Regions from separate parts of the Homo sapiens genome. Here region 1 is linked to region 2. Evidence: fine-mapped expression QTL. Tissue or cell type: monocytes after interferon gamma. Region 2 holds a variant in brackets; the other region holds the start of a gene. All regions are shown on one strand. Distances are from middle to middle.

The links. PIP is the estimated chance that this variant, and not a neighbour inherited with it, causes the effect.
Region 1: it holds the start of IL1RN, and the variant in region 2 is fine-mapped to the expression of IL1RN in monocytes after interferon gamma (Fairfax 2014, PIP 0.93).

Annotation. Positions count from the first base shown.
Region 1 is chr2:113,125,431-113,130,430 of GRCh38, reverse strand. It overlaps IL1RN (interleukin 1 receptor antagonist), which reads right to left and starts at 2,833. Exons shown (of 4, transcript NM_173842.3): 1 at 2,691-2,833; 2 at 767-855. The coding sequence starts at 2,806.
Region 2 is chr2:113,870,071-113,875,898 of GRCh38, reverse strand. All of the region lies in intron 1 of ACTR3-AS1 (ACTR3 antisense RNA 1), which reads left to right. Among named protein-coding and RNA genes, the nearest start is that of ACTR3, 17 kb to the left of the region's middle. The variant G/TAAATAAATAAAG (reference allele first, on the strand shown) is at 3,005.

The sequences.
Region 1 (5,000 bases), 750 kb after region 2:
CTCTCTCCCTAAGAGGCCTCCATGCTCTCATGTAGCAACAAAAATCTCAGCTTCCTCGTGCTTCAGTGTGTTCATTAGGAGAACTACCAGGACAGGAATTGTAGGTCTCATCCACTTTCAGAGCGAGGCACAGGAGACAGAACCAGGGCATAGGGAAGGTGGGAAGGTGGAGGTAATACCATCCTACAACAACAAACAGGGGAGTGAAAACATCCTGGAAGGCTGGAACTAAAAGAATCGCACATCCTGTTGTCCAGTTGATATCATCCCACTGAAGGGAAAGCTGAGGAACAGAGTGGGTGAAGCTTCTTCAAGGTCATCCAGCTTGTTTAATGTGTGGACCAGAATATGGCTGAGTATGGTGTCCAGGAATAAGAGACATAGCTCAACCTTATACATGGTGGATTAATTTGGGATTGAGTTAGGGTTTGAACAACATAGGAACATGGAGCCTTAATAGGCACTTGAGGAAGGGAATGGTCAACCTTGCCTTCTGGTATTTGCCCTTCCCAGCTGTGGCCCTGGGACCACTGTGCCTATAGGCACTGACCTCTGACCTAGACTCTACCTCTCCACACCCTCTTCAGGCTGCCCTCATATGTGCCCTTCAGTAGCCAGGCCCTCCCAGCTTCAAACTTGAATACAAAGACCCAACAAGGATTAGGACATTGCACCTAGGGTTTGTGCAGGCAGGCCATGCTGCTGCAGACAGACGGGCAAAGTGACGTGATGCCCACATACATTGGCTTTCCTGGCAACCACTCACCTTCTAAATTGACATTTGGTCCTTGCAAGTATCCAGCAACTAGTTGGTTGTTCCTCAGATAGAAGGTCTTCTGGTTAACATCCCAGATTCTGAAAAGGAAAAGGACTCAGCTGTAGTGCACAGCCACCATGTGCCCAGCCTTGTGCTTGGCACCTTCCTGTGTCCCCCAGAACTTGTCAAATTTGCATCCAGCTCTTCCAGGGGTATAGTATTTTAGTATACCCACGGCATGCATGGATGAGAAGACTGAGGCTGACAATGGTTAAGAGGCAGGCCCAACCCTCACAGCTGGTGAGCAGTGAGCCCACATTTGACTCCCCTCCTTACTTGCTTCCCATCTGAGATTCCCAGGGAAGGCACTTCTGTTTCAGCAAAGCATGCTGTAGAGCAGCAACATCCAAAAGAACTTTCTGGGATGCAAAAATGTTCTGTAGCTGCACTGCCCAATAGGGTGGCCACTAACCACATGTGGCTATTGACCTCTTTAAATGTGGATAGTGTGACCAAGGGTCTGGATTTTAAATTTTCTTCTATTTTCATTCATTTAAGTATAAATTTAAATAGCCACCTGAGACTAGTGGCTACCATAGCACCTAGGTAGAAGTTTCAAGAGACGGAACACCTTGCAGCTAACTCGCTCTGAGTCTGAGACCAGAAGGGTCTTTCCCTAGAGCCTTTCCTCCATTAGCTGGTGACCTGCTCAGAGTCCTGCAGGAGCAGCTACCCTTGGGAACAACCCGGCTTCCTCTCTACCTCAGCCAGTGACCTGATTCTGGGTCCCAATCCTTTCTTCTTGGTAAAGGGCCTCTCTGGTTGAGAGCAGGACTCAAAGCTGTGAGACGTAATAAACAGAGCTCTGGCCAGCCTGACCTGGGACCTGTGCCTCACCTCTTCACCTGTGAAGTGTGGCTAACTGTACCCACCTCATCAGGTGGCTCTGAAGAGCCCACATGCTCGACGAGGGGTGGCCAGGCAAACCAAAGTGCTTTGCATATGGCAGCATTGGCCTGTTTGTGATTATCCTAGTTTCTAGATTTAGCCTCAGTCTGGAGGGATAAACATCACCTGCTGGGGCCTCCAGGAGGATCTCCTGGAGCTTCTAGCTGATCAGAGCAGGGAGAGGCAACCTAGGGAAGCAGACAGTCCCCATATCTGGAAGGGAGAGACTTGTCACTCATACACCCACAGAGCCCGACTTGCAGCCTCGGCCCAGACAAACATAAAGGTCAGAGTGGGGGAGAAGTCACCCCAACATGATTTCACTGCTGGAATGTCACACTGCAGAGGGCATGCACAAGCAGTCCTGTCATTTCTATCAGCATCACATCTTTACAATAGTGATGGTCTCACAAAGCCGATTCCATTTTCAAATCATAATGGTTTTCAGGCTCTTTACAATGCACGGAATACTGTTACGCTATTATCTGTGCATTTAATTTTCACAACAACCCTGTAAGGCACACAAGGAGTTATCGTGACTCTCATGTCACAGATGTCACAGACGGGGAAACCAAGGTCCCTGGAGAGTGGGACCCTCCGACATGTCAGCACAGACAGGCCTTGCCCATATCAGTCTGGGCCTTCGGGCTGTGCCCCTGGTGCCCCTCTCTGCTTCTCTGTCAGCACATTCAACTAGGCCTGAATCGCAGTCCCACTCCTTGGCATGCATCTATTACTCACTGGGTTCCTGAGTCTCTGGGAAAGTAAGACAGCCCTCCGGTCGCACTATCCACATCTGGGATATTTTGAAACACAAGTCCTGAAGCCCATGCATGTAACAGCCTCTTTCTTGAATAATGGACATCCTCTCCAGCCCAAACCCAGTTCTCAGGCCCTCTGGGGCCTGGCAGCCCCTGGCAGCTGTGATATGTTTCCAGTCTCCAGCTGATCCACCCTCACCTTCTCCTCCTTGGGGTAGCCTTACCTGAAGGCTTGCATCTTGCTGGATTTTCTCCCAGAGGGTCGGCAGATCGTCTCTGAATGGAACAGGAAGAGGAGGAGAGTGATTAGGTGACTGCGGAGGCCTCTGCAGATTTCCATTCTGTGACTGCAGCAAGGCAGTGGACTGCCATTGCGGGCCCAGAGTTGTGGTTTATAAAGAAATAGTCACTCACCCAAGCTAGGCGTCTGCCACCCTGCCCCACTGCGAGAAGCGGAAATACCCTCCTCGCATTTCCAAAAAGAGAAACCCTTGCTGTTGTCACTTTCAACCCCACTAAGTGTCGCAATGGAGTGTTGTAACTGATTCCCTCCCCTTTTTCCCCTGTGCAATTTCCCCAAAATTAAGATTTCTATTTCCCCTTCATTGAGTTCCTGGGAAGAAGAGCACAATGGAAACCAAACTCCCTACTGTTCCTGACAGGTACCCAGAGTCTGTTTGTTGACTTTTTAAAAAACAGATTTGAGCAGAAAGGCCGTTTTTTCATAATAAAATGATAGGGCTCCCTGCACATGGGACAGTCTCATGTCACTTTGTGTTCTTTGAAAAATGGACAGCCTTGGACTCCGGACCATAGATTGGCAAACATTCTGTAAAGGACGAGATAGTAAATATTTTAGGTTTTGTGCGCCACGATTACTCAGCTCAGCTGTCTGTTTCACAAAAGGACGTTGGCAATCCATAAATCAATAAGCCTAGCTGTGTTCCACTACAACTTTCTTTGCAAAAGCGGGGAATGGACCGGATTTGGCCTGAGTCTGCTGACCCCTGATGTAAAGTGAGTCCTTCTGAGAGGTGCTTTGAAATCAACTCTTTTCCCACTATCTTACATCTTTAAAGTTATGGTCTCGGGACGATGACATAAACTCAGCATTTGGACAGGAATGGGTCTAAATTCAACCTCTGCCACTTGCCTTGTGCCACCCGTGTGACCTTGAACAAATCATTTCATTAGTTGAGCCTCTGTCTCTTCACTCTCAGAATGAGGGTGATCATGTCTTCTTCACAAATGGATGGAAGGAAGGAAGGGAAAGAGGGAGGGAGGGAGGGAGGAAGCAGGTGTAGGAAGGAAGAGGAGAACTTCTGGCCCATAATGGGCTCTGATACACATTAACTTCCTTACTTACAATATTCTAGACCCGGGGCCTGGAACATTAGGAAAAAGGTAAGCATGCTCCTATTTTATGGGTAGGAAAAAGTTGAAGAGAATTTCTGCATGATCTACAGGATGGACAGTGCTGGTGCAGAAGCATACGTTGCAGTGTTTTAGAGCTGGACGGGAGCTTGGCAATCATCCTGTCCCAACCTGGCATTGTTTTCAAGAAGACTCAGAAAGATTTAGACAAAAAAGGGATCTGTCCAAGGTCACACAGCTTGCTGATGGCAAAAGTATGCAGAGAAATCCAGGTCTTCTGACCTCCAGCCCCGGGCTTTATTAACAAATGCTTCAGAAACTTTAAACCCTAATATTCATCACACTCTGGGAAGAGGCAAATAAGTAGGCAGGTTAATATACATCACCCCCTTCAGCTAGTCCTCACAAAAACAAACAAATAAACAAAAAAAATGTCTCCTTGGCCCTCAAAGGAAGACACTATTTCTCAAACGTGTTTCAAAAATGATGGCTGGGCTGGGCACGGTGGCTCACACCTGTAATCCCAGCACTTGGGGAGGCTGAGGTGGGCGGATCACCTGAGGTCAGGAGTTCAAGACCAACCTGACCAACATGGTGAAACTCCGTCTCTACTGAAAATGCAAAAATTAGCAGGGATGGTGGCATGTGCCTGTAATCCCAGCTACTCGGGAGGCTGAGGCAGGAGGATCACTTGAACCCAGGAGATGGAGGTCGCAGTGAGCCAAGATCACGCCACCGCACTCCAGCCTAGGCAACAGAGTAAGACTCCATCTCCAAAACAAAAACAAACAAAAAAGTATGAATGACTCACTCAAGGTGATGCAGCTTGTGAGGGCAGCACAGGAATACAGACAAAATGTCAAAATATTTACTACTACAGCAGTTGATCTTGATGAGTCTATTTTCAACCAACAAATCAGAATCTTTCTCTCAACCAACACATCTTCCAACCAACAAATCAGAATCAAACACTTTGTGTCCAGAGAGTTAATCCTTCAAAGGAGGAAGACTATGAATGAATTTCCCAAAGGTTTAAAGAATGTATCCTTCAGAGGAAATAGAACATTTCTGCAAAATTGTGTCACCTCCCTGGGTGATGGATTTTTTCAGGCAAAATGGCATGTCTGTATTCCTGTACTGTCCTCATAAACAGTGTGACC
Region 2 (5,828 bases):
GAATTACTTTAAAACAAGGAATAATTTCCAATTTAGTTATCCAGACAAGTTGTATGGATCCAGACAGATTATTTTTAAATAAGGTGTTATGGGCCAGGCATGGTGGCTCACACCTATAATCCCAGCACTTCGGGAGACCAAGGTGGGTGGATCACCTGAGGTCAGGAGTTTGAGGCCAGCCCGGCCAACACGGAGAAACCCTGTCTCTACTAAAATTACAAAAAATTAGCTGGGCGTGGTGATGCGTGCCTGTAATCCCAGCTACTTGGGAGGCTGAGTCAGGAGAGTCGCTTGAACCCAGGAGGCAGAGGTTGCAGTGAGCTGAGATTGCACCATTGCACTCCAGCCTGGGCAACAAGAGCAAAACTCTGTCTCAAAATAAACAAATAAATAAAAAATAAAGTGTTATTATCATGTCTAAAGTATCTATTTGTCTTTTTCACATATGATGCTACATGGAATAAATTAGAGAAGCTTTACTCAAGCCCCAAAGTAGTCACTACCATGAATGATAAGTAATATAAGGAAGAAAATGTAAGACAAGTTTCTTCACTGTGTATGTGGTTTCATTCTGTTCGTGGATTGGATGATTCCTCTTTCATTAACTTTTCCATTTTCTTTGCCTTTCTTGCAGATAAGTGCCCTCTGTGTACCAAAAAGGAATGTACTGTTTATAGAGACTTCAAATCAGCAGAAAATTCAAATAGTTATAACTTTTCTTTATAATCCATCATGAAAAAGAGTAACGACAAGTAAGCAAACTAATATCAGCTATTTCAATAGTTTCTTTTCCTTTTTTTTCTTTTTGAGACAGAGTCTCGACAGGATGGAGTGCAGTGGTGCAATCTCAGCTCACTGCAACCTCCGCTTCCCGGGTTCAAGCGATTCTCCTGCCTCAGCCTCCTGAATAGGTGGGACTACAGGTGCATGCCACCATGCCCAGCTAATTTTTGTATTTTTAGTAGAGATGGGGTTTCACCATGTTGACCAAGATGGTCTCCATCTCTTGACTCGTGATCCGCCCACCTCGACCTCCCAAAGTGCTGGGATTACAGGCGTGAGCCACCGCGCCCGACCTTTTTTTTTTCTTTTTTTAATAAGTTTTTGTTCTGTCACCCAGACTGGAATGCAGTGGTGTAGTTGTCGCTCACTGCAGCCTCTAACTCCTGGGCTCAAGGGATCCTCCTGCCTCAGCCACCCCAAGTGCTGGGATTACAGGCGTGAGACACTGCACCTGGCCTAAATACAATTTCCAAGCAGATATGACTGTTAACTTACTTTGTTGAACCAAAAAAAACGTAGCTAAGATATTGGCAAAAACTAAGAAAACATCTTTTTTGGATTCTCATGTCTACATTTCAGCCTATTATTTGGAATGAATTCCTACATGTGCATAATGAATTGTACCACTCTAAGCCTATTGACTCTTTGTTACTTCACTGTGTGTGTTTCCTGGATATGGCTGAATTATCCTGAAAACCTATAATTTCCTGTTTCCCTGATCTCCAGGAGACTATTTTATGCTTCTCTACTAATATTTATGATGTGTATATGTTAGTCTCCTGTATTGACTCCACTCCTGTTTATGACCCTCTTCCTGTATACAATACCCGTCATACCTCATTGACCTTGCCCATCCCCTAGTTGTGGCTTCTCTGACCTGCCTTCATCTTTTGCTACCCCAAATCCCGTATAACATACTGTGTGCTAGGCTTAATGTGCTGGTCATTTGCCTGCTTGCTCTCAGATTCATTATTTTTGTCCTTCTCTTACTCTGTCTATGTCACAGGAAGCTGATTCCTGCCAACTGCATTTCCTGGGCTCATTTAACCATGCCCAGAAGGAATTAGGACAATGAAAGATAAAAAGATAAAGGAGCCAACATATCCTCTCCCCTTTGATTCAGACGACTTCTCCACCATCACCTTCTTCACAATGGCCACTTTTCCTCTGCAGTTGGGGTTCTTCTTCCCCAGCAATGGCTCCAGGACTCTGTTAACTCAGCTCCTCCCCAGTTCTAGAGGTAGACGGTAGAGGCTTCCTGCTATTGTTACTCTGGGGTTCCCCTTCTTCTCCAGTTTGGCTTTCCAGCCCTTCCAACTCCTTTGTAACTAGTTCCTGGTATCAAATTCACTTAACTGAACTACCTGACTTCGGCCCTGATGTTTGAGTGGACCCCATCTCACACACTGAGGTTGACAATACTTGGCAAGTTGTTAGGCGAAGAGCAAAACAATAATCATAATCATAGAAGCATTCATGTAGGTATTGCAAGGCTCACATCTCCAAAATGTCCAGTGGAGACATGAAATAATGAATATGTTACATAGTGACAGTCATTTAAAATTTTTCAAAAGCCACTTTCATTTTGTTCTTTTCTTCATTCTTTAGTAATCCCCCATCAATAGAGAAACTATGGGGGAAAGGAGCAGAGTATACAAAGAATGATGCCCACAGTGAGCCCAAAATAGCTCCAAGTGGATTTGCCTGCACGAAAGAAAGATGTAATCAGCACCCAGAGTAGGTAGCGAAACAGTCAACACTGCTGTTCCTCTCAAGACCCCTGCTGCTCTCCCACCAGAAACGTAGTCGCTCTCTGCATTAATTTGATCTTCCCATGACGTGAAAGCATCAATTATAAGTTGTACGATAAGTCAAGCTTATTATATGTAAGAGTCCAGGCCAGGCGCAGTGGCTCACGCCTGTAATCCCAGCACTTTGGGAGGCCAAGGCGGGTGGATCACAAGGTCAGGACCTCGAGACCATCCTGGCTAACATGGTGAAACCCTGTCTCTACTAAACAAAATACAAAAAATTAGCCGGGCGTGGTGGCGGGTGCCTGTAGTCCCAGCTACTTGGGAGGCTGAGGCAGGAGAATGGCGTCAACCCGGGAGGCAGGGCTTGCAGTGAGCTCAGATCACGCCACTGCACTCCAGCCTGGGCGACAAAGCAAGACTCTGTCTCAAAAAAATTAAATAAATAAATAAATAAATAAATAAATAAA[G/TAAATAAATAAAG]AGTCCAGGGCAGTTGTCAGTGGCCTAAATGACTAAGGAGTGACCCATCTTTTGAGAGAAGCTTTGAAAAATCAGACTTTTGTGCTCTGTAAAGGGTTTTGTGGTTTTATGACCTTGGGCAAGATCCAGTTCATCATTTCTAGCTTCTGAACAAATCTTTTTTCTGGATTTTTGAAATGGAACAGAACTACAAGCCACAAAGGGGATCCGTTTTATTATTTAAATGAAATAAATGCATGGAAATTCATGGTTCCAGTGAGGAACCATGCATTTGCTAAGACTGCTGTAACAAAGTACCATACACTGGATGATGGCTTAATGAGAGAAGCTCATTGACCCCAGCTCTGGAGGCTAGAAGTCTGAAATCGAGGTGTCAGGAGAGTTGGTTCTTTCAGGGGACTGTGAAGGAGAATCTGTTCCATGTGGCTCTCCCAGCTTCTGGTGGTTTGCTGGCAATCTTTGGCATTCCTAGGCTTCTGCTACATCATTCCAATCTCTGACTTCACCTTCACTAGCACTCTCCCTATGTGTGTGTCTGTATCTGTGGTTAAATTTCCCCTTTTTTGTAAGGATACCAGTCGTATTGAATTAGGACCCACTATAGTGATCTCATTTTAACTTGCTTACCTCTGTAAATATCGAATCTCCAAATAAGGCCACATTCTGAGGTACTGGGGATTACGACTCCAACATATCTTTTTGCGGGGAGGAGAACACAGCTCAGGCCATAACGAGCCATTTGTAGAGATTAGCTCACTATCTGTTTCTGACTCTTCTTTCCATACCTGCCTACCCATTTCTCTCCACACTGTCTCTTGACAGAACCTGTGGTCTGGAAAACATCTGGTCAACTTAGTCACACTGAGGAGTAAGTGGCCAAAGCTGCCTTTGTCTATCTGTAGTATACAGTGGTTCAAAAGGATAAAAATAATGATAGGAAACTGTTAAATTTTATATGTTATCCCTCCTCGAAATACTGCATTTTAACAAATCACAAAGAATTATACCCATTTCTCACTATAAGTCACAAAACTTGGAGTTATGAGTAAAAACTTGCTAAGCAACCCTTGATTTTCATTGTAATTAACAGAAAAACTGCATTGTCTATTAACAGAAAGATAAAATTGAGTCTCAGATTGGTGATACAATGATACGCACTCATAAGTCTCTACTTAAGATGACCATAAACCAGGTGCAGTGGTTCATGCCTGTAATTTCAGCACTTTGGGAGGCCAAAGTAGGAGGATTGCTTGAGCCCAGAAGTTTGAGACCAGCCTGGAAAACATAGTAAGACCCTGTCTCTATAAAACATAAAAAAATGAGCTGGGTGTGGTGATGCCTGTGTGGGGGCCCTAGTTACTGGGGAGGCTACAGTAGGAGAGCCTGGGAGATCCAGGCTGCAGTAAACCGTGATCAAGCCGCTGTAATCCAGCCTAGGCGACAGAGTGAGACTCTATCTAAAAAAAAAAAAAATCTATTACTATAAATTTCTTCTTTACCAGCAGTAAAAGATATAAGCATTCCTGAAGGAGCTGCAAACATAGCTACTGACATATCATCAGTATTGTTTCATAAGTGGTTCAGAGGCTATGAAATTAGCAATGCATTTAAACCACTTGAGCCAACCATGACTTCCTCAGCGGTCCAGCCCCTCCAAAAATGCACGCAGGAGCCTTTTCTGTACCAAATAAAAGATTAATTTTTTAATCTCAAGAATGTGGGATGTGATAGGATAGCTATCATATTTTTAAAAAACTTAAATGGACTCTAAGAACTAAAAACCATGATGGAAAACTTCACTTCAGGTATTATGATCTAAAACATAGTCAATTCTCATTATTCATGGTAGTTATAGTTTATAAAGTTGCTGTAAACATTGAATTAGTGAATAATGAACCATTGCTCTTAAGGGAAATACAGGGTTAGGTTTCTGCAAGCTTCTGGTTATAACATTTTTGCCAACCAAACATATAACCTTGTTTTATGTGTGTTTCTGTTTAAAGACACTTTAGCATATATTGTTGATTTGTTAACATTGAACTCACAGCTAATAGCGCCATAACTCATGCTTGAGTGAAACTGATCCAACACACGTATTTTCTCCATAAGGCACATCATAGCCTTCTTGTGCTTAAGAACCCTACGCAGCACTTAGCACTACACTTGTTGGCCATTTTAAACAGCAAAATCACCACCAAAAAGAACGAAAGTGTGAAAAACATGGTACTAAATAAACAGAAAAAGGACACACATATAGTAAGAAAGCTGAAGTGGGAAGGCAGAGTGTTGCTTTGTTGAAATTCAGCTGGGAATGTGTGCAATCAACAACTCAATTTTTTTTTCTTTTCTGCACATGTCTGCCAATGATCACAAAAGTGCTGTGGGTATTGATTCGGGAGTTATAAATAACTTTTAATGAGTAGGAGAATTTGCAGATATGAAAGCCATGAGAAATGAGGTTTGACTGTACGTCTCCCTGGCTTCTGTTGCCCATAAGCCAAAAATATATATTTTTTAAAAAAACAGGGCTTTTTTTGCCTAGCAAAGTGGGTTACATTTACACTCCATATTTGTAATTTGTCATGTGAGACCTCAAAGGATGTTGGATAACTGTAATTAATGTCCAAGCCCTGCTGCTGATTATCTGAGTGAACTTGGTCAAAGGGACTGGTTTTCCATGGGTCTCCTCTTATTATTCATAAACTGATAGTCTTGGACTACTATACACACACACACACACACACACACACACAAATATACACAAATTATCATAAAACTTTTTAAATCCAACACTCATATCCAACACTCACATTTTAAAATACTC